Homo sapiens: one gene and its partners. The protein of the gene in region 6 interacts with the protein of the main gene of each other region in a pairwise test. Each region holds a gene or a part of one and is shown on either strand. Other genes may lie near its edges. The genes, in order: GOLGB1, TPM3, TPM4, ALPI, GALNT2, NOD2 and TPM1.

Region 1 (3,500 bases), on a different chromosome or scaffold from region 6:
TGAAGCAGCAAGGGTCCTAGCAGACAATCTCAAGTTGAAAAAGGAACTTCAGTCAAATAAAGAATCAGTTAAAAGCCAGATGAAACAAAAGGATGAAGATCTTGAGCGAAGACTGGAACAGGCAGAAGAGAAGCACCTGAAAGAGAAGAAGAATATGCAAGAGAAACTGGATGCTTTGCGCAGAGAAAAAGTCCACTTGGAAGAGACAATTGGAGAGATTCAGGTTACTTTGAACAAGAAAGACAAGGAAGTTCAGCAACTTCAGGAAAACTTGGACAGTACTGTGACCCAGCTTGCAGCCTTTACTAAGAGCATGTCTTCCCTCCAGGATGATCGTGACAGGGTGATAGATGAAGCTAAGAAATGGGAGAGGAAGTTTAGTGATGCGATTCAAAGCAAAGAAGAAGAAATTAGACTCAAAGAAGATAATTGCAGTGTTCTAAAGGATCAACTTAGACAGATGTCCATCCATATGGAAGAATTAAAGATTAACATTTCCAGGTAAATGAGTAGTGAATTTTTCCTCCTCCAGAGGTAACTTCAAGCAAAGAAAGTCTCTAAACTATTTCTGTTTCCTTTTAGACAATGGGACTAATTTTGGCATAAATGTCCATGGAAGATATATTCTCTCTCACTTCTGACTTTTTTTTGGCAAACAACAATCCTGCTACAACTGCATGAACATGAAAAGTTCGCATCTTCTCTTCCCATCTTTCTATTGAGAGATTTCTGTACTTCTGTTTTGTTTTGTTTAAGATGGAGTCTTGCTCTTGTCACCCAGGCTGGAATGCAATGGCACGATTTTGGCTCACTGCAACCTCTGCCTCCTGGGTTCAAGCAATTCTCCTGCCTCAGCCTCCCGAGTAGCTGGGATTACAGGAGCCTACCAACACGCCCAGCTAATTTTTTGTATTTTTAGTAGAGAGGGGGTTTCACCATGTTGGCCAGGCTGGTCTCGAACTCCTGACCTCAGGTGATCCACCCACCTCGGCCTCCCAAAGTGCTGGGATTACAGGCATGAGCCATTGCACCTGGCCTCTGTATTTCTTTTCATTTCCATTTCAACTACTCTTGCCTGGATTTTTACCACAGTACTCTCAAATTAATTGTCTAGTCTCGTCTTTTCTTCTTCCTTTAGTCCACATTAATTCATACTGCATATACCTCTTAGAGTTATTTTTTCTCAAATTTCAATTTTCTGTCACTTTTTAATCTATAGAACTAATAATGTCTCTCATCCTTTGTATTCCTTACTTCCAATAGGACCCTTCTGTTCTAAAACAGATTTTCTCACTGTCTTTCATATCAAGATTATCCCTTAGAGAAGCCAAACGTTAGCTTGTCTGGAGCAAAGTAGAATAAAATAGGAGAAAATGTTACTTTTCAGTGTTGAAAACCATGTCACTAAAATAAGTGACATATTTTGGAGTTTATGACTTAAATATATGAACCCTTAAGTATGATATACCTTTAATACATAGCACTCAGTAGATAAACATGTAGGTGCAGAGAATTAATACCTCTTCAGTAAAATATTTAACACCTGTTATGAATGTTAATTCATTTGTAAATCTATTGAGTACATGTTATAGTATTTGTTCCTTGGGAAACACAGTTTTTTTCTTGAAATCTGTAACTAATGACCTTCTCTCTGTTTCAGGCTTGAACATGACAAGCAGATTTGGGAGTCCAAGGCCCAGACAGAGGTCCAGCTTCAGCAGAAGGTCTGTGATACTCTACAGGGGGAAAACAAAGAACTTTTGTCCCAGCTAGAAGAGACACGCCACCTATACCACAGTTCTCAGAATGAATTAGCTAAGTTGGAATCAGAACTTAAGAGTCTCAAAGACCAGTTGACTGATTTAAGTAACTCTTTAGAAAAATGTAAGGAACAAAAAGGAAACTTGGAAGGGATCATAAGGCAGCAAGAGGCTGATATTCAAAATTCTAAGTTCAGTTATGAACAACTGGAGACTGATCTTCAGGCCTCCAGAGAACTGACCAGTAGGCTGCATGAAGAAATAAATATGAAAGAGCAAAAGATTATAAGCCTGCTTTCTGGCAAGGAAGAGGCAATCCAAGTAGCTATTGCTGAACTGCGTCAGCAACATGATAAAGAAATTAAAGAGCTGGAAAACCTGCTGTCCCAGGAGGAAGAGGAGAATATTGTTTTAGAAGAGGAGAACAAAAAGGCTGTTGATAAAACCAATCAGCTTATGGAAACACTGAAAACCATCAAAAAGGAAAACATTCAGCAAAAGGCACAGTTGGATTCCTTTGTTAAATCCATGTCTTCTCTCCAAAATGATCGAGACCGCATAGTGGGTGACTATCAACAGCTGGAAGAGCGACATCTCTCTATAATCTTGGAAAAAGACCAACTCATCCAAGAGGCTGCTGCAGAGAATAATAAGCTTAAAGAAGAAATACGAGGCTTGAGAAGTCATATGGATGATCTCAATTCTGAGAATGCCAAGCTAGATGCAGAACTGATCCAATATAGAGAAGACCTGAACCAAGTGATAACAATAAAGGACAGCCAACAAAAGCAGCTTCTTGAAGTTCAACTTCAGCAAAATAAGGAGCTGGAAAATAAATATGCTAAATTAGAAGAAAAGCTGAAGGAATCTGAGGAAGCAAATGAGGATCTGCGGAGGTCCTTTAATGCCCTACAAGAAGAGAAACAAGATTTATCTAAAGAGATTGAGAGTTTGAAAGTATCTATATCCCAGCTAACAAGACAAGTAACAGCCTTGCAAGAAGAAGGTACTTTAGGACTCTATCATGCCCAGTTAAAAGTAAAAGAAGAAGAGGTACACAGGTTAAGTGCTTTGTTTTCCTCCTCTCAAAAGAGAATTGCAGAACTGGAAGAAGAATTGGTTTGTGTTCAAAAGGAAGCTGCCAAGAAGGTAGGTGAAATTGAAGATAAACTGAAGAAAGAATTAAAGCATCTTCATCATGATGCAGGGATAATGAGAAATGAAACTGAAACAGCAGAAGAGAGAGTGGCAGAGCTAGCAAGAGATTTGGTGGAGATGGAACAGAAATTACTCATGGTCACCAAAGAAAATAAAGGTCTCACAGCACAAATTCAGTCTTTTGGAAGGTCTATGAGTTCCTTGCAAAATAGTAGAGATCATGCCAATGAGGAACTTGATGAACTGAAAAGGAAATATGATGCCAGTCTGAAGGAATTGGCACAGTTGAAAGAACAGGGACTCTTAAACAGAGAGAGAGATGCTCTTCTTTCTGAAACCGCCTTTTCAATGAACTCCACTGAGGAGAATAGCTTGTCTCACCTTGAGAAACTTAACCAACAGCTCCTATCCAAAGATGAGCAATTGCTTCACTTGTCCTCACAACTAGAAGATTCTTATAACCAAGTGCAGTCCTTTTCCAAGGCTATGGCCAGTCTGCAGAATGAGAGAGATCACCTGTGGAATGAGCTGGAGAAATTTCGAAAGTCAGAGGAAGGGAAGCAGAGGTCTGCAGCTCAGCCT
Region 2 (3,394 bases), on a different chromosome or scaffold from region 6:
CTCTCAAATTTCCTGTGATGTTACATTACATATAGATCTCGTGAACAGCCTGAATTTAGATAATACCTATAACCAAGTTAGTTTGTGTGATTCTCACTTGGGAAAGAAGGATGTTATCAGGATCCTTTTTTTTTTTTTTTTTTTTTGAGTTTCACTCTTGTTGCCCAGGTTGGAGTGCAATGGTACGATTTTGGTTCACTGCAACCTCCACCTCCCAGGTTCAAGCGATTCTCTCGCCTCAGCCTCCTGAGTAGCTGGGATTACAGGCACCCACCACCACGCCCAGGTAATTTTTGCATTTTTTTTTTTTAGTAGAGATGGGGTTTCACCATATTGGCCAGGCTGGTCTTGAACTCCTGACCTCAGGTGATCTGCCCGCCTCCCAAAGTGCTGGGATTACAGGCATGAGCCACCGCACCCAGCCGCGTTATCAGGATCTTTATCCCTCAAAGCAGCCTGGTCAATTCTTTTCCATTTAGGGAAGAAATAAAGAGACAGAGAAGGAGTGAGAGCATTTTATTGCCTGACTAAATCACAGAACACAGAGTTTCCTAGGAATTGCATGAGGTCAGAAAGACAAATGCAGCTGTTCTCTCACTTTGAACTTAGTTTCTAACTCTGCTATCTCTAGTTATTAAAAATTAAGACCAGTACTAGCTCCTTAAAGTTTTTGGTTCCCTGATAATAGCTAAAACAAAACAAACGAAAAGGCAAGGCAGAGAACCTATTTGGTCTAGCGTTCTTTTCAGCTATATCTAATTAAGAAACAACCCCATGGCCAGGTGCAGTGGCTCAAGTCTGTAACCCCAGCACTTTGGAAGGCCGAGGCGGGCAGATCACGAGGTCAGGAGTTTGAGATCAGCCTAACATGTTGAAACCTAGTCTCTACTAAAAACACAAAAATTAGCCGGGCTTGGTTGCACGTGCCTGTAATCCCAGCTATTCAGGAGGCTGAGGCAGGAGGATCACTTAAACCCAGGAGGCGGAGCTTGCAGTGAGCCAAGATCACACCACCGCACTCCAGCCTGGGCAACAGAGCAAGACTCCGTCTCAAAAAAAAAAAAAAAAAAAAACACAAACCAACCCCATGGAGTTGGATAGTATTCAACCAACACCATGTGAAAGGAAGAGATTTGGTTGGGGCTAAGATAAAGCTGCCAAACAGAATAGGTCTAAGATAAAGCTGCCAAACAGAATAGGTCAGTTGTACCTATCAGATAACTTGGGGTTACTACATCTTATTCCTTATCTCAATGATGGTAACAAGGAAGGGCAAAATGGGCCTGTGGTTCTTAGAAATTAAGAGGGGGTAACATTAAGGGGACAAATGTTTTACTCTGATGCTTGACTTCACCCCAATACTAGTCCAGGCTCAAGTAACACAGGATGGCTTCTGCAAGGATATTAAGCCTTAAACAAAGGAATGAATTTAGCATTAGCACTAATTACATAGTACTTCATTGTCCACTTTGGTACCCCAGTTTGTTGGTCTCTATCCTTGGCTCACACTAGTCATACCGCAAGGAAAACAGGAGATACCACAGATCAGAGCTATAACACCTTACTTTTCTCCCAATCTCCCTCTTATTTCCTTCTTTTTTTTCTCTCCTGCCTCAGCCTCTCGAGTAGTTGGGACTACAGGCATGTGCCACCATGTCCAGCTAATTTTTGTATTTTTAGTAGAGACAGGTTTTCACCACGTTGGCCAGGATGGTCTTGATCTCTTGACCTTGTGATCCACCTGCCTCGGCTTCCCAAAGTGTTGGGATTACAGGCATGAGCCACCATGCCCGGTCTACTTCCTTCCTTTCTAAGAAGTCTTTCTTCATGTCAAAGCCAACTTCTGCCCAGGATCTGAATATTTAGAAATGCATTGTCCAATATAATAGCCACTAGCCACAGGTAGCCAAATTTAAATGAACTACAATGAAATACAATTAAATTTTAGCCCCTCAGCCACACTAGCCATGTTTTGAGTGCTTGACTGCCACATGTGGCTAATGTACTAGACATCATTACCAAAAGTTCTGTTGGAAAGCCCTGCTCTAAAGTAAATTATATTGCCTATATAATCTTCCTACCAATACACTCTTTTGCCCCTGAAAATGACTCCTCCTCTTCACTTCTTAACACTCAAAATGTACCCTCAAATTACTAAAGTATCAATGCATGTCCCATTTTCAGTTATCTTCCTTCTTAGCCTCTCTGTTGAAAAACCACTAGAAAGCATCCAACCCGGAACTTTTTAAAGAACTACTCAACCGTCTTCTTTCCCTCCAATCAGTTCCATTTGGTTCCTCCTCTTACATAACGTTTTCCTCATTGTTTAATTTTTTTTTGAGACAGAGTCTTGCTCTGTCACCCAGGCTGGAATGCCGTGGCACAATCTCAGCTCACTACAAGCTCCGCCTCCCGGGTTCACGCCATTCTCCTGCCTCAGCCTCCCAAGTAGTTGGGACTACAGGTGCCCGCAACCACGCCCAGCTAATTTTTTGTATTTTTAGTAGAGACGGGGTTTCAACGTGTCAGCCAGGATGGTCTTGATCTCCTGACCTCGTGATCCGCCCACCTCGGCCTCCCAAAGTGCTGGGATTACAGGCGTGAGCCACCGTGCCTGGCCTCTTTTTTTTGTATTTGCAATTGTCCTTCATGGTTCTAATTTACCTCCATGGCATAAACTACCTGTACCCCATATGGATTCCCAACTCTCTTATGTCAACCTCTCTGCCTCACGCCCTAGAATTTTGTTTTCACCCAGATACCTGCCAGATTGTCAGCCGTATCTTCTTTCCCTTCCCCCAGCTCCCCAAACCAGGACAACATGATCTCCCTACATCTTTAACCCCACCACTTTCCTACTCTTTTTTTGGGGGGGGTCTCATTCTGCCACCCAGGATGGAGTGCAGCAGTGTGATCACAGCTTGCTGCAGCCTCAGACTCCTGGGCTCAAAGGATCCTCTGGCTTCGGCCCTCCAAGTAGATAGGACTGCAGGCACGCACCACCATGTTTGGCTAAGTTTTTATATTTTGTAGAGACAGGTTCTCACTTTATTGCCAGGCTGGTCTCGAACTCCTGGATTCAAGAAATCCTCTCACCTCAGCCTCCTAAAGTGCAGGGATTACAGGCATGAGCCACTGCACCCGGCTAATTCTCCTACTCTAAAAACCAGTCATCCTTGTCTTTCCTCCTCACATCAAGTGGCCAGGCCTTTCACAATGCCTGTCTTTATTTAGTGCTATCTCTCCTGCCACTACTCTAGCTCAGACCCTGATTATTCTCTCCTAGAAAACTAAATTAACCTAACCCAATTTTTTCCAAAGTGTGGTGTATTCACTGCTATAGTTACTTTAATGTGATTAGGAAAAAACACTAACACATCAAAACTTTGATTTC
Region 3 (3,008 bases), on a different chromosome or scaffold from region 6:
ATTCTGTGATGTTCTGCTGTAATTAAAAATACAAAGTACTGGACAGGCATGGTGGCTATAACCCACCTGTATTCCCAGCACTTTGGGAGGCTGAGCAGATGGGTTCCTTGAGCCCAGGAGCTCAAGACCAGCCTGGGTAACATGGTGAGACCCTGTCTCTAGAAAAAATGCAAAAATTGGCCAGGTGGTGGCATGCACCTGCAGTCCCAGCTATGCGGGAGGCTGAGGTGGGAGGATCACCTGAGCCCAGGGAGGTCAAGGCTACGGTGATTCGTGATTACGCCACTGCACTTCAGCCTGGACAACAGAGTGAGACCCTGTCTCAAAAAAAAAGTACTTTCTCTCTTGTGACTTTCACCCTGGCAGTTTCAGGTTTAGAAATCTTTGGGGGGGTGCTGGGCATGGTGGCTCACACCTGTAATCCCAGCACTTTAGGAGGCCAAGGTGGGTGGATCACTTGAGGTCAAGAGCTCGAGACCAGCCTGGCTAACATGGTGAAACCCCATCTCTACTAAAAATACAAAAATTAGCCGGGTGGTGGTGGCACGCGTCTGTAATCCCAGCTACTCGGGAGGCTGAGGCAGGAGAATTGCTTGAGCCTGGCAGGTGAAGGTTGCAGTGAGCCAAGATCGCGCCACTGCACTCCAGCCTGGGTGACAGAATGAGACCCTGTCTCAAGAAGAAGAAAAAAAAACAAATCTTTTTTTTTCTTTCATTTAACAAAGACGCTTATTAATTTATCTTTCCCCATACTCTTAATCCTCACCAGAGAAACTTGCCCAGGCCAAAGAAGAGAACGTGGGCTTACATCAGACACTGGATCAGACACTAAACGAACTTAACTGTATATAAGCAAAACAGAAGAGTCTTGTTCCAACAGAAACTCTGGAGCTCCGTGGGTCTTTCTCTTCTCTTGTAAGAAGTTCCTTTTGTTATTGCCATCTTCGCTTTGCTGGAAATGTCAAGCAAATTATGAATACATGACCAAATATTTTGTATCGGAGAAGCTTTGAGCACCAGTTAAATCTCATTCCTTCCCTTTTTTTTTCAAATGGCACCAGCTTTTTCAGCTCTCTTATTTTTTCCTTAAGTAGCATTTATTCCTAAGGTAGGCAGGGTATTTCCTAGTAAGCATACTTTCTTAAGACGGAGGCCATTTGGTTCCTGGGAGAATAGGCAGCCCCACACTTTGAAGAATACAGACCCCAGTATCTAGTCGTGGATATAATTAAAACGCTGAAGACCATAACCTTTTGGGTCAACTGTTGGTCAAACTATAGGAGAGACCAGGGACCATCACATGGGTAGGGATTTTCCATCCAGAGCCAATAAAAGGACTGGTGGGGGCCGGGGGTGGCTATTGTGGGAAGTCATAACCCACAGATAGATCAACCTAAGAATCCTGGCCCTTCTCCACTCTCCACCATGCAGGACAAACATCTTCTCAAGCAGTCAACGTAGAATGCTTGGGAAATAGTCATAATTACCCACATATAGTAATTAATAGATGGTAATTAATTGATCCTTGATGTGATGTTCTTTTGCATATTTCCTTCATTCTAAAGTTGTTCCCTGGCCGGGAGCGTTGGCTTTCGCCTGTAATCCCAACACTTTGGGAGGCCAGGACAGATCACTTGAGGTCAGGAGTTCGAGACCAGCCCAGCCAACATGGCGAAACCATGTCTCTACTAAAAATACAAAAATTATGGTGACGCCTGCCTGTAGTCCCAGCTACTCGGGAGGCTGAGGCAGGAGGATCGCTTGAACCCAGGAAGTGGAGACTGCAGTGAGCCGATATCGCACCACAGCGCTCCAGCCTGGTCGACAGAGTGAGACTCCATCTCAAGAAAAAATAAAAATAAAGTTGTTCTCTGAAGAGCAAATGTCTCATTCCAGTAATGACCCACTCAGCAGGAATATGGTGGAGTTCAGTCCAATTCAGGTCAGCCATATCCAAAAGACCACAAGTCATTACTAAGTTGAGCAAAAGAGTTTTTATCTATTAGCAGAAAGGGCCTCTCTGGCAGCAGAGATTAAAAACTGGCCCAACTTCATTTCCATACTTCAGGGAACAGCAAATTGAGGATTTACTTATCTAGGACTTGAATTCCTTCTTTGGGACCAAGTTAATAAAAGACCAAGAAACTCCTGATTAAACTGGATAATGAAGGATTCTGTAGACAGGGCTGCACGTATCGGCTTTGTTTGACTTCTCTTTTCTCAGTTAACATCTCAGAGCTAGAACATTCCACATTCCCCAGCAGCGTGTGGGGGCTGACTAAAGTTTACAATTCCAACTAAAAATCACCCTGCTTCTGGCTTATCTGAATCCCTTACCCACCCCACCCCACCACCCTACTCCTATTTATTCAGCACCACACTACCCAGGAAATACACTAGCAAATTGTGCAATGGAATAAAATCCACACTTTAGATTCTTGCAACTGTATCATATGTAATAGTATCACTTTTTCTACATTTTGGTCAAATAAATTTTTACATAAACTACAATTTGCGTGAATTTTAGAATGTGTGGGGGTACACAGAGCATTTTGGTTCAACAAATGTTAAAGGGATGGAAAGGGAAAATAACCAGAGCCAAGAATGTAGACAAGGTTATCTATTTGCTTTATACTGTGACTTCATGATACAAGGATATTACAGTCTCATTGCAGGCGAGAGCACTCAGCCTCGGTCACTCGAAAACTCCTGGCCTTCCTTATCCCCTACGCTGCCTAAGCCAGGCTGTGAAGAATGAGTAGGATTTTAAGAGATAAAAGCAGGGAAAATCATCTCTGTTGCCTGAGTTAGGAAGATCTGCCTAGCTAAGGCTGAGTTACACATACAAAGGAAAGCAGACCAGCATGGGCACCATAGTGAGACCCCGTCTACAAACAATAACAAAAATTTGGCCAGGTACAGTGGCCAAATTACACCTGTAATCCCAGCACTTTGGGAGGCCGAGGCTGGCGGACCGCTTAGGGCCAGGAGTTCAGGACCAGCCTGGC
Region 4 (3,929 bases), on a different chromosome or scaffold from region 6:
GTTTACCTCCTTCACCATTTTCAAGTGTACAGGGCGGCAGTGTTGAGTACACGCACAGTGTTGTGCAGCTGATCTCCAGAACATTCTCATCCTGCAACCTTGAAGCTCTGTCCCTATTAAACTCCAACTCTAACCCTAACCCCAACCCTAACCCATTGCCTCCTCCCTCAGCCTCAGGCAACCTCCATTCCACTTCTGTCTCTATGTATTTGACTCCCCTCGGGACCTCAGAGAAGTGTGTTCGTGCGTATTTGTTCTTTTGCACTGGTATATTTCACTGAGCATAATGTCCTAAGGTTCATCCATGTTGTAGCAGGTGTCAGGGTCGCCTTTGTTTTCAAGGCTGCGTGATACTCCATTGTATGTGTGCACCCTGTTTGGTTTCTCCATTTCTCTTTTGCTGGACACTTGGGTAGCTTCCAGCTCTTGGCTGCTGTGGATAATGCTGCTGGGAACATGGGTGTGCAGTTATCTGTTCGAGTCCCTAGTTCGCATTCCTTTGGCTACACACTCAGAGTGGGATGTCTGGACTGAAGCAATACTTTTGAACTCAGCCTGAGGTTACCAAACTCTCTGAACTCCTTATCAGAGGCTACACTTCTGGGTGTTCCCCGGGGCCCATGGAAAACAGACTCACCCCAGGCTCCATCTACCTGTGCAAGGGAACAGGGGTCAACCTCAAGTGCACAGGCTGCTCTGGAAGACCCAGCCCAGGTCTGGCTGACCCAGAGCACTGGCCCCTTCCCAGCCTGCGTCCTCAGGACATAGGTGTGGGCACCCATATACACCAAGTGGGTTCTAGGGCAGCCAGGCCACCCAGTGTGCCTCCTTTCACACTCCTCTGGGGCTCGTGACATTACGAGCCCTAACCCGGGCCCTGGCCTAGGCTGTGTGTTTCCAGTCTCACCTCTCTTCACACCTTGAATGAGGTGAATGAAGGAGTGGCAACGCGTCTCCCACAAGACACTGTGAGCCACACCCAGTCCCTTCCCTTCAGCAAGCTTGGCTTCAGGTCACAGGACTGGGCGGGGTCAAGATGGACACCAGGGGTGTGGGGAGGGACGTGGAGCATTTACAGCCAGGGGCAAAGTCCTCCCCTGATTTAAACCCAGGCAGCCTGCGCTGCAGCCGGTTCCTGGTGTCCCCACTTCGCCTCCCTCCTGCTGCCCCCAAGACATGCAGGGGCCCTGGGTGCTGCTGCTGCTGGGCCTGAGGCTACAGCTCTCCCTGGGCGTCATCCCAGGTAATGAGGCTCCCCAAGCTGTTCCACACACAGGGCACCCCCTCAGCCAGGCTGACCTGATCTCTACTCTCCCCCTGGCCAGCTGAGGAGGAGAACCCGGCCTTCTGGAACCGCCAGGCAGCTGAGGCCCTGGATGCTGCCAAGAAGCTGCAGCCCATCCAGAAGGTCGCCAAGAACCTCATCCTCTTCCTGGGCGATGGTGAGTGAGCAAGGCCTGTCCAGCCCCGTAGTCCTCACAGCCCCGGCACCCGGGACCTTCAGTGGTTCCAGGACAACCCTGGGGCCCAGGACTCACACATTTCTGCTCCTTCAGGGTTGGGGGTGCCCACGGTGACAGCCACCAGGATCCTAAAGGGGCAGAAGAATGGCAAACTGGGGCCTGAGACGCCCCTGGCCATGGACCGCTTCCCATACCTGGCTCTGTCCAAGGTAAGGGCTGGGCCACCTCAGAGTCCTCCAAGCAGAGGAGAGGGATCAAGGATATGGAGTGTGGCAGGAGGGAGGGAGCCAGGACAGCTGGGGCCTAAGTTAGGAGCTGGGAGCAGTTAGGATCCCAGAGGACCAGAACCAGGTCCTTGGTTGGGGTCTGGGTGTCCGCCCCGAAGTAGAGCTCAGGGTGTCTCCGTTCGCAGACATACAATGTGGACAGACAGGTGCCAGACAGCGCAGCCACAGCCACGGCCTACCTGTGCGGGGTCAAGGCCAACTTCCAGACCATCGGCTTGAGTGCAGCCGCCCGCTTTAACCAGTGCAACACGACACGCGGCAATGAGGTCATCTCCGTGATGAACCGGGCCAAGCAAGCAGGTGAGCTGGGGCCCGCTGTGGGGTCAGGACCAGGCCCAAGATCTCGGTCACCGATCCTGACCTCTGTCACCCTCAGGAAAGTCAGTAGGAGTGGTGACCACCACACGGGTGCAGCACGCCTCGCCAGCCGGCACCTACGCACACACAGTGAACCGCAACTGGTACTCAGATGCTGACATGCCTGCCTCAGCCCGCCAGGAGGGGTGCCAGGACATCGCCACTCAGCTCATCTCCAACATGGACATTGACGTGCGACCCCCGGGCCAAGGGCTGGGGCTGGGCAGAGGGGAAGGTGGCACAGGCTCAGATCCAGGCAACCAAAAGCCTGATCTGGGTCAGCAGGTTCTGGAGGTGGAGTTGGGGATGTAGAATGTGCAATACAGGCTGGGCCATTCCCACAGCCCTGGGGAGGGGAGCCAGGGGCTATGCATGAGGAGGGGGCACGGGGCCAGCCAGGCCCCCAAACCACCTGCCCCATCCATTGTCCTCAGGTGATCCTTGGCGGAGGCCGCAAGTACATGTTTCCCATGGGGACCCCAGACCCTGAGTACCCAGCTGATGCCAGCCAGAATGGAATCAGGCTGGACGGGAAGAACCTGGTGCAGGAATGGCTGGCAAAGCACCAGGTGATGGGGGCTGGTGGGTGTGGGAGGCACGGCAGGGGGAGGCCAAGTGTGTGGGTCTCAGGGCTGTGGGCTGAAGCCTGGCTCTGTCCCTGCAGGGTGCCTGGTATGTGTGGAACCGCACTGAGCTCATGCAGGCGTCCCTGGACCAGTCTGTGACCCATCTCATGGGTAATGACCCCCTTCCTGCCCTGGCATTCCTCAGACAACCTCAGAGGGTGCCATCCGAGCCTGTGTGCCCATTTGCCAGCACCCTCCCGCTCACAGCCTGCCAATCACCACCAAGCTCCTTGTCCCACAGGCCTCTTTGAGCCCGGAGACACGAAATATGAGATCCACCGAGACCCCACACTGGACCCCTCCCTGATGGAGATGACAGAGGCTGCCCTGCGCCTGCTGAGCAGGAACCCCCGCGGCTTCTACCTCTTTGTGGAGGGTGCGTGGTGGCCCCTGGGGAGTGGAGGAAGGCGGGGCGCGGCAGGGCAGGTTCAAGCATCACCCCCCTCTGGCCTTCCTGCAGGCGGCCGCATCGACCATGGTCATCATGAGGGTGTGGCTTACCAGGCACTCACTGAGGCGGTCATGTTCGACGACGCCATTGAGAGGGCGGGCCAGCTCACCAGCGAGGAGGACACGCTGACCCTCGTCACCGCTGACCACTCCCATGTCTTCTCCTTTGGTGGCTACACCTTGCGAGGGAGCTCCATCTTCGGTAGGCCTGGGGAGAGTGGCAGGTGCTGCTGCATCAATTATGAGGGTGAAGTTTGAGCTTCAGTTTCCTCCTCTGTCAAAAGTGTGCAATGCTGGCACCAGCCCTATAGGGATCTTGTGAGGACCGAGCCCCCGAACAGGCAAAAAGTGGCGGTGCCTGGCACATAGGAGGCACTCCCACAGCTGTGGTCAGCTCAACTACAGGGACCCGCATCTCCCTACAGGGTTGGCCCCCAGCAAGGCTCAGGACAGCAAAGCCTACACGTCCATCCTGTACGGCAATGGCCCGGGCTACGTGTTCAACTCAGGCGTGCGACCAGACGTGAATGAGAGCGAGAGCGGTGAGTGAGGCTGAATGGCCCGTGCAGGGGGACCAGGGTGCCAGGGATGGGGGCATTCGCGGGAGGGGGACGCCGCCTGCCTGCCCTGAAGTGCACTCACCCTCCTACCAGGGAGCCCCGATTACCAGCAGCAGGCGGCGGTGCCCCTGTCGTCCGAGACCCACGGAGGCGAAGACGTGGCGGTGTTTGCGCGCGGCCCGCAGG
Region 5 (3,500 bases), on a different chromosome or scaffold from region 6:
CCCCAGCGTTGAATTCAGCTACCCAGGTGCCAAGGCGGGAAGGGGTTGTGGGCACAGGAGCATGGGCAGTCCACACCACACCACCTGCCCCAACCCTGTTCTCCTCAGCAGATTTTCAAGTTTGATGTAGAAAGCCCATCTATTCTTAAAATTTATAAAGGAATCTTATTTCCCTCTTCTCCAGTATTCAGAGCAGATTGGAGCTTAGGAAGAAACTCAGCTGCAAGCCTTTCAAATGGTACCTTGAAAATGTCTATCCAGAGTTAAGGTAAGTCCCCAGGGATCTGGGGTTTCACTTTGTAAGGGCTTAGAAGCCAGTAAGGCCATAGAAGCAGCAGAGGGGAAATGGAGGTGGGGCTGCAGGCATGAGATTGGGCACCTGGGCCCCAGTGAGAGCCTGTGGTCTCACTCCATGGTGTGGAGCTGAGAATCTGCTCCCAAGTTGGCCTGCTGCTGTCTCTGTCCTGCAGAGCTGCCCTCCCATGCTTCGGAGTCCCAGAGGCAGTCCCCCGGGCCTCACCTTGTTTTTGGCTTGTTCTCCATTGGCAAGGTGATGGGCTGGGTGACCTGAAGGACTGGTGTCTGACAGGCTCTTCGAGTGACCAGGAGCAGTCCCCAGCCTCCGCAAGCATGCAGTGTCTGCAGCCAGCCCTCGATCCCCCCGCCAGGCGCCTTTGCATGCCTCCGATCTGCTGCGCTCACCCTTGCTGCTCCTGTGGGCCAGCAGATAACAGCCCCCACGAGGCTCCCTCCTCCCAGCTAGGTTAATCACATGTGAAACGGAAGTAATAATGCTGCTGCCCCACGTCCCTCCGGAGGATTCATGGCAGAAACACCTTTCTGAGCATTATTTCCACACCCAGCCTCTTGTTTTAAGCGAATACGAGCTCCCCATCTGGAGGGACCTGCTGATAACCTCGTGAGAAGACCTATAGATCCGCTGGGGTGGAGGAGCCATCTGCACTTCATCTTCTTAAAGGGACTGTCAGGCAGGTCGTGCCTTAATGCGGCACATTCCTTATTCTAAATATTCCCAGAGCATTTTACAGCGGCTCACATATCTCCAGCACAGTGCCTGCGAACGCAAGACTTGCCACCATTATCTTTCCGCTAACAGCTCCTTCAGAGCCCTTGTCACGGAGATTTGTTGGACAGTTAGGTAATGCGGCCTCTCTCTGTTGCTCCTGTTCGCTCACTTGGCTCTTTGGAACCGTTTCCTCTGCTTTTCAAGTAACATGCCAGGCGCCAGGTGGCCCATGCCCCCTAGGAGGAGAACAGGAGAGAACACAGCGTCCTTCTCCCTCGGATCCCTGCCGTGCAGGACAGCTTTTGCTGGGGATTGAGAGCACCAGATGGTCACCAGCGATGGTCACCTGCAGCGGCAAGGGTGCACTGGTCACAGTTGCTGGTTGCAGGGCCCTGGTCTTCTTCCTGCCAGCTCTGTCCTCTCGGCCATGTGCACTCAACCCAAAAGAACCCATTCTGCCTCTGTGTCTGGCCCCAGAATATGATGTCTACACCTCCTGCCTGGTGTCCCTATACAACAGATTCTTGACTGTGGGCACTAAGGCGGCTGCTCATCAACTCTCCGTCAGCCAAAGAGGGGCTTCAATTCAGTGGATTTTAACCCAACCATGCCACTCACTTTGCTTTTTCAGTCACAGTTGACTGCCATTTCTCACAGAGGTCACCCATGGTTTGTAGTGACACTGGGCCCCGCACCCACTGAAGACCACATCTGAGGCACTGAGCACCATCCTGGCTGGCAAATCTGCTTCCCCTGTCTGTGGGGGGTGAGGGAGACATCAGCCTCGTGTTTTGTGTCTGTAATATCACCGCCGTTTACTGAGTGCCTCCTACGAGCCAGGCACTGGGCCGTGTGCTTTACACGAAATGTTCTATGTAACACTTGCAGCAGATCTGGGTAGCCCATAGCCTACCAAAGGGCAAATCGAGCTTCAGAGAAAGTGAGTCTTGCCTGAAAGCCAGCACCTGGCAGAGGTGGGCTGAGGTTTGGATCTGGTTCTGAAGCACGTTGTTCTTCCCCGTGGCTGTGGCTTTGTTCACATTAGACCACCTGACAAGTCTGCCCACCTTTCCCGTCTTTACTGGATAAAGGTCAGATCCTAAGTGTATTGGAAAGTTCAAGGCAACAGGATCTGACCACATTGATTTTCTAAATGACTTCCAATAAGACTAACATTGAAGAGTATCAGGAGCTTTTCCTTCCTTTCCAAAAAAAAAAAAAAAAAAAAATGACCTGATATAGAATATAAAGAATACTTCTGCAACATACAGTCTTAAAGTGTTGGAAGTCCAGAGCCTGGGAGAAATGCCGTGTCCCTGACACACACTACCTGTGGTAGGAAGAGGCACGATGCCTAGTCACTGGGTCTTTCTCTCGTTCCTGTCACCTGTCATGAGGCCACTGAGCAAAGGGGCTGGTGGACGGGAGCTGGTGGTCATGTGCAGTGAAGCAGGTGATTCTCACGTTGTTTTTCAGGGTTCCAGACCATCAGGATATAGCTTTTGGGGCCTTGCAGCAGGGAACTAACTGCCTCGACACTTTGGGACACTTTGCTGATGGTGTGGTTGGAGTTTATGAATGTCACAATGCTGGGGGAAACCAGGTATGTGCATGGGGAAGCCAGGTCACCTGCAGGCCCAGAGAGAGCAGGAGTTGGGGGGGTCCTGATGTTAGAAGTCCCAGCTGCCACCTTTCTCCTGGGATGGGTGATGTCTATGAGGAAGCACCTGGCTCCTGCTGGCCACAGCCTCTTTGGCAGCCAGCACCAGGGCCAGATAGAATGTCACACACTTTGGTGCATCAGCTCTGTCATCAGCTTCGGACCAGGCTCTGCTGCAGCGGCAAGGGTGCACTGGTCACAGTTGCTGGTTGCAGGGCCCTGGTCTTCCTGCCAGCTCTGTCCTCTCGGCCATGTGCACTCAACCGCAAAGCACCCATTCTGCCTCTGCGTCTGGCCCCAGAATATGATGTCTACACCTCCTGCCTGGTATGCCTATACAACAGATTCTTAACTGTGGGCACTAAGGCGGCTGCTAGTTATAGCCCCTGCCTGTTAGATAATAGCTTAAGATAGAAGATACTCAGTATTAATTGCTTCCATTGCACACATACACACCTTTTCTGAGAGGCATAAAAATGCACAACCGCCAGGCGCCGTGGCGCACGCCTGTAATCCCAACACTTTGGGAGGCTGTGGTGGGTGGATCACCTAAGGTCAGGAGTTCAAGACCAGCCTGGCCGACATGGTGAAACCCATCTCTGCTAAAAATAAAAAAAAAATTAGCCAAGCGTGGTGGCGGGCACCTGTAATCCCAGCTACCCGAGAGGCTGAGGCAGGAGAATTGCCTGAACCCGGGAGGCAGAGGTTGCTGTGAGCTGAGATCACACCATTGCATTCCAGCCCAGGCTACAAGAGCAAAGCTCTGTCTCAAAAAACAAACAAACAAACAAACAGAAAAACCCACTACCTTCT
Region 6 (3,500 bases):
ATCAGCTGGTAGACTGTGACTGACTGAAGCCTGGCTGCTGTGATTGGCTAAGACTTAGCTGTTTGTTATAAGGATATGTTGTTAGGTTGCAGTTTGCTACATAGGAACTCAAAGTACAGAGGCAGTCTCAGGCCAAATTTAGTTTAACTATATGTTAAGCTGCAGGTGACAGAATACCTCCATCTATAGAGGTTTAAACAAGGAAAGGGTTTATTTTTTCCTGTATAGGCAGCTGGATGTAGGCAGTGTAGGGTTTGTACAGTGGCTACAAGAGGCCAGGAGGGGTCTCAGCTCTGTCTCATTCTCTTCCTGTTCCATCATTCTTAGCCTGTGACTTCATTCACATGGTTGGTTGTCTCATGATCACAGGATGGCTGCTCCAGGTGCAGCACTACTTCTGTATTCCCGGATTCGATCTATATACCCAGGAAAGCCATCTGGGTTCTCTCCTTTAAAAAGCATTCCTGGAAGCCCCACCTGTCGACTTCCCCTTATGTATCAACCATGTGTATGTCACTTGACCAACCCACTTGTATGTTGTTTGACCAGCCCTGGCTGCAATGGAGAGTGGGAAATACAGTTTTTTCACCAAGTGCATGGCTGTCCAAATGAAATGAGACTTCCATTAATAAGGAAGAAAGGAAAGATGGAGATCAGGAAGCTGGGGGATCAGGGAACTTATTACATTGAGAGCCCTTGGAGTGAATTCTCTTGCAAATATGTCCCTGGAATTGAGAATCCCCACAACGTACTTTATCTGTTCTTTCTTTATCCATGAGTTTGGGTTTTCAGATGTTGGATTTCCTATATGGGGGGCATGTGAGTTCATCATCTTCCATAATCAATGTTGTATCAACTGGATTTTCTCTCTTCTTCTCACCAGCCTGGAGGAGAACCATCTCCAGGATGAAGGTGTATGTTCTCTCGCAGAAGGACTGAAGAAAAATTCAAGTTTGAAAATCCTGAAGTAAGGAACCCATAAGCAGGAAACAGGACAATAATTGCTGGCCTTTGGAAGGGGCATTTCTGAATAAGATCTGGGCCGCTCTCCGCTGGGCTAACTCATGTGAGGTGGCCTGGTAGAACAGCTTGCCTTGGTCTAGGTGGACAAGGATTCCAGTGCAAGTTGTTTATCTGGGAGGTGGTCCCAGTAAATGCTGATAGGAGAGTGGTGAAGTGAGATGGGGAAGTGAAGGTAACCAATAAAGGGGAGTTATCAAGCCAGTTATCAATGAGGGAAATTGGAGCTCAGTACTCTGGGGCACTCCTGGAGCCAGTGCAGAACACACATGGTCACCTACCCAACCAATGGGCAAGAAAGCCATGGCATTTATCCACCAACCCTCTGTCCTTCCTATGTTGATGTGCGCTCATGGGGCACTGATTCTCCAGCACTTCCAGCTCACCCTCACCCAGCTGAACATGCTTCTGGGGTCAGGAGAATGGCCTCAGGCAGAGAGTGGAAGGTCTTCTCTGCAAGCAGTGGCTGGGGAGGTGATGTGATGGGGAGTACTGTGGCCTCCTCCAGTGGCTGACTCAGTGGCTTGGGACTTGTGCCACAAAGAGATGGACAGCTCAGGTGAACATGAACCCACCTAGTGACCATCATGGGTTTGTCAGGGTGCTCTCTGAGGCTGATGCCAAAATTCTTATTTCAAGTAGACCTCAGGAACCCCATCAGATGGCTCCTTTTGCTGGAGGAAAGTGGCATCTGCCTAGGCAAATGTGGTCCTAGGAAAACGCTTGCCTTTAGAGACAGACAGACAGACAGCTGCCTCTGTGAGTGCCAGCTTTGCTGCCAGGCTGCTACCCACTCTGGCGACACTCATTTGTGTTGCTTTCACAAGCTAGGAAGTTTCCAAATATTTGGAGAAAACACTTCCACTAATTATTTGGGTGGAAATGGGCTGGGAAGTTGGGGTGAAGCCCGGATGTGTCTGAGCCAGATGCCAGCTTTGCACTGAGGGTCGGCCTTTGGGAATACCAAGCCCATTATCAACCAGGTGTGGATATGGCAGGTTTGTCTTCCCTCCTTGTCACAGCCTTACTCCACTTGACTCCCATGGATGCCAGGCAATGAGGCTGGGGTTGGTCCCATGCCACCCTGTCATCAGCCTTATTTTTCAGCATCCTAAACTATATCATCCCCCACAAAAATTGAACTTCTGATATATCTTTTATAAAAAAGAGAAATGCCTACATCTTTCTTTTCCAGGCTTAGTTTCTGCCAAGAGTTGGTTGAGAGCCCAGGCTTGCTGGGTGCAGTGGCTCACACCTGTAATCCCAGCACTTTGGGAGGCTGAGGCGGGTGGATCACCTGAAGTGGGGAGTTCCATACCAGCCTGACCAACATGGAGAAACCCCATCTCTACTAAAAATACAAAATTAGCCGGGCGTGGTGGCATACACCTGTAATCCCATCTACTCAGGAAGCTGAGGCAGGAGAATCACTTGAACCTGGGAGGTGGAGGTTGCCATGAGCCAAGATCACACCATTGCACCCTAGACTGGACAAGAGAGAAACTTCCATCTCAAAAAAAAAAAAAAAAAGGATGAGAAAAATAATAATTTAAAAAAAAGAGTCCAGGCTCTGGAACCAGACAGCCTGGGTCTTACCCCTGCTCCACCATTACCAGCCAGTTCTTCTTGGATGAGTGCCTCAGTTGCCTCAAGTGTAAATGGAGATAATGGCTGGACCTTCATTATAGGCCATGAGCATTCACTGAGAGAATGTAGCTAACAAAAGTGAGTTGTAGGTTGGAGCAAAAGTAATTGTGGTTTCAGACCATGAACTTTAAATTATTATAACTAGGCTAAAATACATCTTTATTAATCAAAATAGGAACCATTAAAATCAACACATTTTTGCCAATAAGAAATAAGTTTGTTTATTCCTGTAGCATAAAAATTCATGCTTCGGGATTCAACAAACTCTTGGAAAGCATTTTCTGCATCCTCCTGGTTGTGGAAGCATTTTTCCTGCAGAAAGTTGTCAAGATTCTTGAAGAAATGGTAGTCAGTTGGCTAGAGGTCAGGTAAATATGGCGGATGAGGCAAAACTTCATAGTCCAATTCATTCAACTTTTGAAGCTTTGGTTGTGTGACATGCAGTCGGGTGTTGTCGTGGAGAATTGGACCCTTTCTGTTGACGAATGCCGGCTGCAGGTGTTGCAGTTTTCAGTGCATCTCATTGACTTGCCGAGCATACTTCTCATATGTAATGGTTTCGCAGGGATTCAGAAAGCTGTAGGGGATCAGACTAGCAGCAGACCACCAGTGACCATGACCTTTTTTTTTTGGTGCGAATTTGCCTTTGGGAAGTGCTTTGGAGCTTCTTCTCGGTCCAACCACTGAGCTAGTCATTGCCAGTTGTATAAAATCCACTTTTCATCGCACGTCACAATCAGATCAAGAAATGGTTCGCTGTTGTTGTGTAGAATAAGAGAAGATGACACTTCAAAATGACGATTTTCTTGGTTTTCACTCAGCTCATGAGGCAC
Region 7 (3,466 bases), on a different chromosome or scaffold from region 6:
TTTAGGATATCTGTGAGATAGAGTGGTTATTACTAAAATAAAACCTAAGTGCCTTAGGGAAGAAATGCTTAAGTATAATTTTTCCCTCCTCCTTCAGGATATAAAGTATTTTGTTAAGATAATATATGACTTAAAATAACCCCTAAATCCTTACTTTGAATTCATACTTGGAAGAAGATGGGTTCTTCTAAAAACAAGACCACAATCACCACATCATTCCCAATTTAATTAGGAAGTAACACTAAAGATATAAAATATACTAGAGTCATTCTCACCAATAAGCACCTCACTCACAGTGAAAAATAAACCTGCCACACTTGTAATGAGCATGAAGTCAAGCTGGATGGCATTTGCCACTATGGCTGGTGGCTAACTAGTCACCTCGTGAGCAGAAGACTTAGGTTCATGAGTTCAAGAGCCACAGAGAAAAACCCCAGAGGACACACAGGAAGAATGTGCAAGTGCAAAGGAGCGTATCAATGTGGATGCCCTTGAATTGGAAAATTGTTTTGCCAGGTTGGTATTCAACCATAAGGATTAAACTAAAAACACTACTTAAGATCTTACCTTCTAAGTCATCAATGCTTTTCTCCAATTTAGTTACTGACCTCTCCGCAAACTCAGCCCGAGTCTCAGCCTGTAATGATTTATTTGAGTTAAAGTTGGGAAGTTTTATGTTTCCTGTAGCTACAAACATAGGGAAAACTAGAGGATGAAAATGAAGCACATCACCTATAAAATGGATCAGAAACTACTTGTCAGTTTCAGTCACCTCTGTGAGAAATGGCAGTTAGCACAGTACATAAACTCCAAGGCGACCTTTGAATATTCCTGACTTGGATCATTGGAACTTTAAAATGAAAAGGCCCTGACCGGTTCCATGAAAACAAACTCATTTAAAATCCAGTTGGCTTCATCCACAACTCTCATATTACCTCCTTCAGCTTGTCGGAAAGGACCTTGATCTCTTCCTCATATCTGTCTTCCTTCTGCGAGTACTGTAATTAGAAAGAGCATTCCAGATGTCAGGCTGCAGCTCAATCTACTCATGGCTTCTCATGCAAAGAACTCGCCAGCTCAGCCAACAGATGTTAAGGATCTCTTAGGAGGTAATGGAACCTCTGATATCAAATGGCACACTGCAATACATTCTCTGCTTTCTTGCCTATTGTTTTACATGGGATAACAACAAGATAACTTATCCACTTGGCACTTGGTTTAAATTAAATTGATGCCTCATATCCCTAACATAAAATAAATTCTCTAGTTAAAAAAAAGAATTTGTTATCTAGTAACTCTCCAAAAATCACCTCACAATATTGCCATTTTACTAAAATGTCTACTGTAAGTGTTGCTTTCTGGCAGGGCCTCTTTTGAGCAGCTCTTAAAAGATGCCTTTCCCCCACACCATCCTCCTGGCCTACCTTCTCAGCCTGAGCCTCCAGTGACTTCAAGTTGTTCGTCACAGTTTTCAATTCTTCTTCAAGCTCGGCACATTTGCTAATGTTTTCGATCAGAGGCAGAAAGGGTGGGAGACAAGCCAAAGGAAGGAGGAGAGAAAAAGGAGAGGGATGGGAAAAAATGAAAACTGAGTCCTAGAGACGAAGGGCTGCCTTAAAGTAGCCAAATCATCAGGTATTAAAATGTTTAGGTTTTCCAGGAACACTGCCCCCCAACCTCGCAACAGCAGAAGGCAGGGTGACCAAATCCAACAACTTTGAAGTGCGATAATTTGGCTCCTTTTTTGGCTGCCCAAAGAGCATTTATGAAGGGAAAACAAAGGAGCATAAAGGACCAAGGGAAAGCACTTAAGGCAAGATATAAATAGCAGAGGGTGAAGTGAAGGTGCAGTCGTTATACCAAACGAACCAGGAGGCATTGGAAGCTGAAAGATGTCTGGGTTGCAGTTAAACCTAAAAACCACACGAGCCATCAGTACCTTATCCTCTGCAGCCATTAATGCTTTCAAGGTCTGATCCATTATTCTTAATTGTTCTTCCAGCTGTCGGACTTGGCTGTTAGTGGACACAGGAAATGCACAAGGCCATTCACAAAATCAGTGTGCAGGTAAGGCATGCAGTGATACACGCATTCATACATAAGACACCCCACACGAGTCCTCCATGTTCCATACTCGTGGCTCATCCACATCAAATGAGCACAAAAGGAGCCCGGAGCTGAAACAGGTAATGTGCAGCTGCCAGAAGGTCATGCTGTTTAGTCACTGCTCTGCAGCACCCCATTCGTGGCCTCCTGGCGCCGGGCCCGCTTACCCTTCTGAGAGCTCAGCCCGCTCCTCTGCACGTTCCAGGTCGCTCTCAATGATGACCAGCTTACGGGCCACCTGCAGCAGGAAGACACAACACACACACCATGGGTCTTGCAAGCTTTGTGTAACAGAAGGGCATGGGGGTAGAGATCAGATCCCATCAGGCCCTAAGGGTTTTGTCTACAAACAATATGATCCTCTTTCTGGTAGACCAGAGAGAAGCAACTCTCTATTAGGAGTGCCAGCAGAGAGGAGATCAGAGGCTTCTGCTTTGACTCAGAATGGTTAGCTGTGATTGGGCAGTCTCAATTGGAAGTCTGACCTAGGTGAACCGGCAGCCAGACCAAAATGTGGAAGGAGGGATAAAATACACATTCACAATCTCAAAAACAGCAGTAGGATGAGACATGTACTAAAAAGGTGGGGGCTGCCAGGAAAACAAAGTAAACCTAAGAACTCCATCAATTTGATGGCTGATCTGTGCATCTACCTCCTTACTGCAGTGGAAGAATACAAGAGACACTAACGTGAGACAAGTTGGTGAGATAACTGACAAAATCAAATTTGTATTTAGTGGAAGAACCAGAGAGAGGAAGGGAGCCTCTGAAGCAGATCAAAACTTGTGAGCATAGTGTAATCTGAAGGTAATAATGGTAATAAAAAGGAGGGGCAATGCTGTTTCAGGATAGCCACGATGTGATCCAATAAGGAAAAAACAGAAACCTTAATAATCAAGTTGCCTCTTATCACAGGAGGCTGTTTTCATGGGGACACGACCAGGAGCAAATTCTGCTGAAAACCTGCGTTGATAATAGTTTTCTACCACCCTTGAGGAGAGAGGCCTCTGTGAATCCACTGAGAAACTGTCTGTGGTCTCTAAGCTGCCCAATCTGGATGTGCCAGGTCACTCTGGGAAGAAATGACTTGCACCATGACAGCATGAGAGCCTCCTTTCACAAGACACAGGGCCCAACTCTCCCTTCCGGCCAAAGATCTTTTGTCCGGGTCTTTGTGGCTGGGGGAGAGGAGTTTTGGTCCTTCTTCGCAGTGCTACTGATTGGCTTCCTGATAAAGCCTGGGATCCCCTAGCAGGATTAAAATTAGAACCGTTTTCTGGACACAAAGGAACTCTGCTTCTCAAAACCACCCATTTCTGCCAACAAAGCAGATGGCCTCACTCGGGAATCAAGACTGTAC

What was found.
Region 1: the proteins of NOD2 (region 6) and GOLGB1 interact in a two-hybrid assay, tested with the Homo sapiens proteins (one large-scale study listed by BioGRID and IntAct).
Region 2: the proteins of NOD2 (region 6) and TPM3 interact in a two-hybrid assay, tested with the Homo sapiens proteins (one large-scale study listed by BioGRID).
Region 3: the proteins of NOD2 (region 6) and TPM4 interact in a two-hybrid assay, tested with the Homo sapiens proteins (one large-scale study listed by BioGRID).
Region 4: the proteins of NOD2 (region 6) and ALPI interact in a two-hybrid assay, tested with the Homo sapiens proteins (one large-scale study listed by BioGRID).
Region 5: the proteins of NOD2 (region 6) and GALNT2 interact in a two-hybrid assay, tested with the Homo sapiens proteins (one study listed by BioGRID and IntAct).
Region 7: the proteins of NOD2 (region 6) and TPM1 interact in a two-hybrid assay, tested with the Homo sapiens proteins (one large-scale study listed by BioGRID).

Annotation. Positions count from the first base shown.
Region 1 is NC_000003.12:121,690,742-121,694,241, reverse strand, and holds part of GOLGB1 (golgin subfamily B member 1), read left to right. Parts: coding exon 1-501; intron 502-1,660; coding exon 1,661-3,500. UniProt on the Homo sapiens protein: May participate in forming intercisternal cross-bridges of the Golgi complex.
Region 2 is NC_000001.11:154,161,313-154,164,706, forward strand, and holds the end of TPM3 (tropomyosin alpha-3 chain), read right to left. Parts: 3' UTR 501-3,394; downstream 1-500. UniProt on the Homo sapiens protein: Binds to actin filaments in muscle and non-muscle cells. Plays a central role, in association with the troponin complex, in the calcium dependent regulation of vertebrate striated muscle contraction.
Region 3 is NC_000019.10:16,100,495-16,103,502, forward strand, and holds the end of TPM4 (tropomyosin alpha-4 chain), read left to right. Parts: intron 1-769; coding exon 770-852; 3' UTR 853-2,508; downstream 2,509-3,008. UniProt on the Homo sapiens protein: Binds to actin filaments in muscle and non-muscle cells. Plays a central role, in association with the troponin complex, in the calcium dependent regulation of vertebrate striated muscle contraction.
Region 4 is NC_000002.12:232,455,024-232,458,952, forward strand, and holds the start of ALPI (intestinal-type alkaline phosphatase precursor), read left to right. Parts: upstream 1-1,129; 5' UTR 1,130-1,176; coding exon 1,177-1,243; intron 1,244-1,325; coding exon 1,326-1,442; intron 1,443-1,556; coding exon 1,557-1,672; intron 1,673-1,875; coding exon 1,876-2,050; intron 2,051-2,126; coding exon 2,127-2,299; intron 2,300-2,541; coding exon 2,542-2,676; intron 2,677-2,771; coding exon 2,772-2,844; intron 2,845-2,974; coding exon 2,975-3,109; intron 3,110-3,193; coding exon 3,194-3,385; intron 3,386-3,608; coding exon 3,609-3,725; intron 3,726-3,836; coding exon 3,837-3,929. UniProt on the Homo sapiens protein: Alkaline phosphatase that can hydrolyze various phosphate compounds.
Region 5 is NC_000001.11:230,262,738-230,266,237, forward strand, and holds part of GALNT2 (polypeptide N-acetylgalactosaminyltransferase 2 precursor), read left to right. Parts: intron 1-184; coding exon 185-268; intron 269-2,503; coding exon 2,504-2,630; intron 2,631-3,500. UniProt on the Homo sapiens protein: Catalyzes the initial reaction in O-linked oligosaccharide biosynthesis, the transfer of an N-acetyl-D-galactosamine residue to a serine or threonine residue on the protein receptor.
Region 6 is NC_000016.10:50,724,606-50,728,105, forward strand, and holds part of NOD2 (nucleotide-binding oligomerization domain-containing protein 2), read left to right. Parts: intron 1-883; coding exon 884-967; intron 968-2,809; exon of another isoform or gene 2,810-3,500. UniProt on the Homo sapiens protein: Pattern recognition receptor (PRR) that detects bacterial peptidoglycan fragments and other danger signals and plays an important role in gastrointestinal immunity.
Region 7 is NC_000015.10:63,059,747-63,063,212, reverse strand, and holds part of TPM1 (tropomyosin alpha-1 chain), read right to left. Parts: intron 2,345-3,466; coding exon 2,274-2,344; intron 2,016-2,273; coding exon of another isoform or gene 1,940-2,015; intron 1,501-1,939; coding exon 1,425-1,500; intron 999-1,424; coding exon 936-998; intron 638-935; coding exon 568-637; coding exon of another isoform or gene 404-567; exon of another isoform or gene 1-403. UniProt on the Homo sapiens protein: Binds to actin filaments in muscle and non-muscle cells. Plays a central role, in association with the troponin complex, in the calcium dependent regulation of vertebrate striated muscle contraction.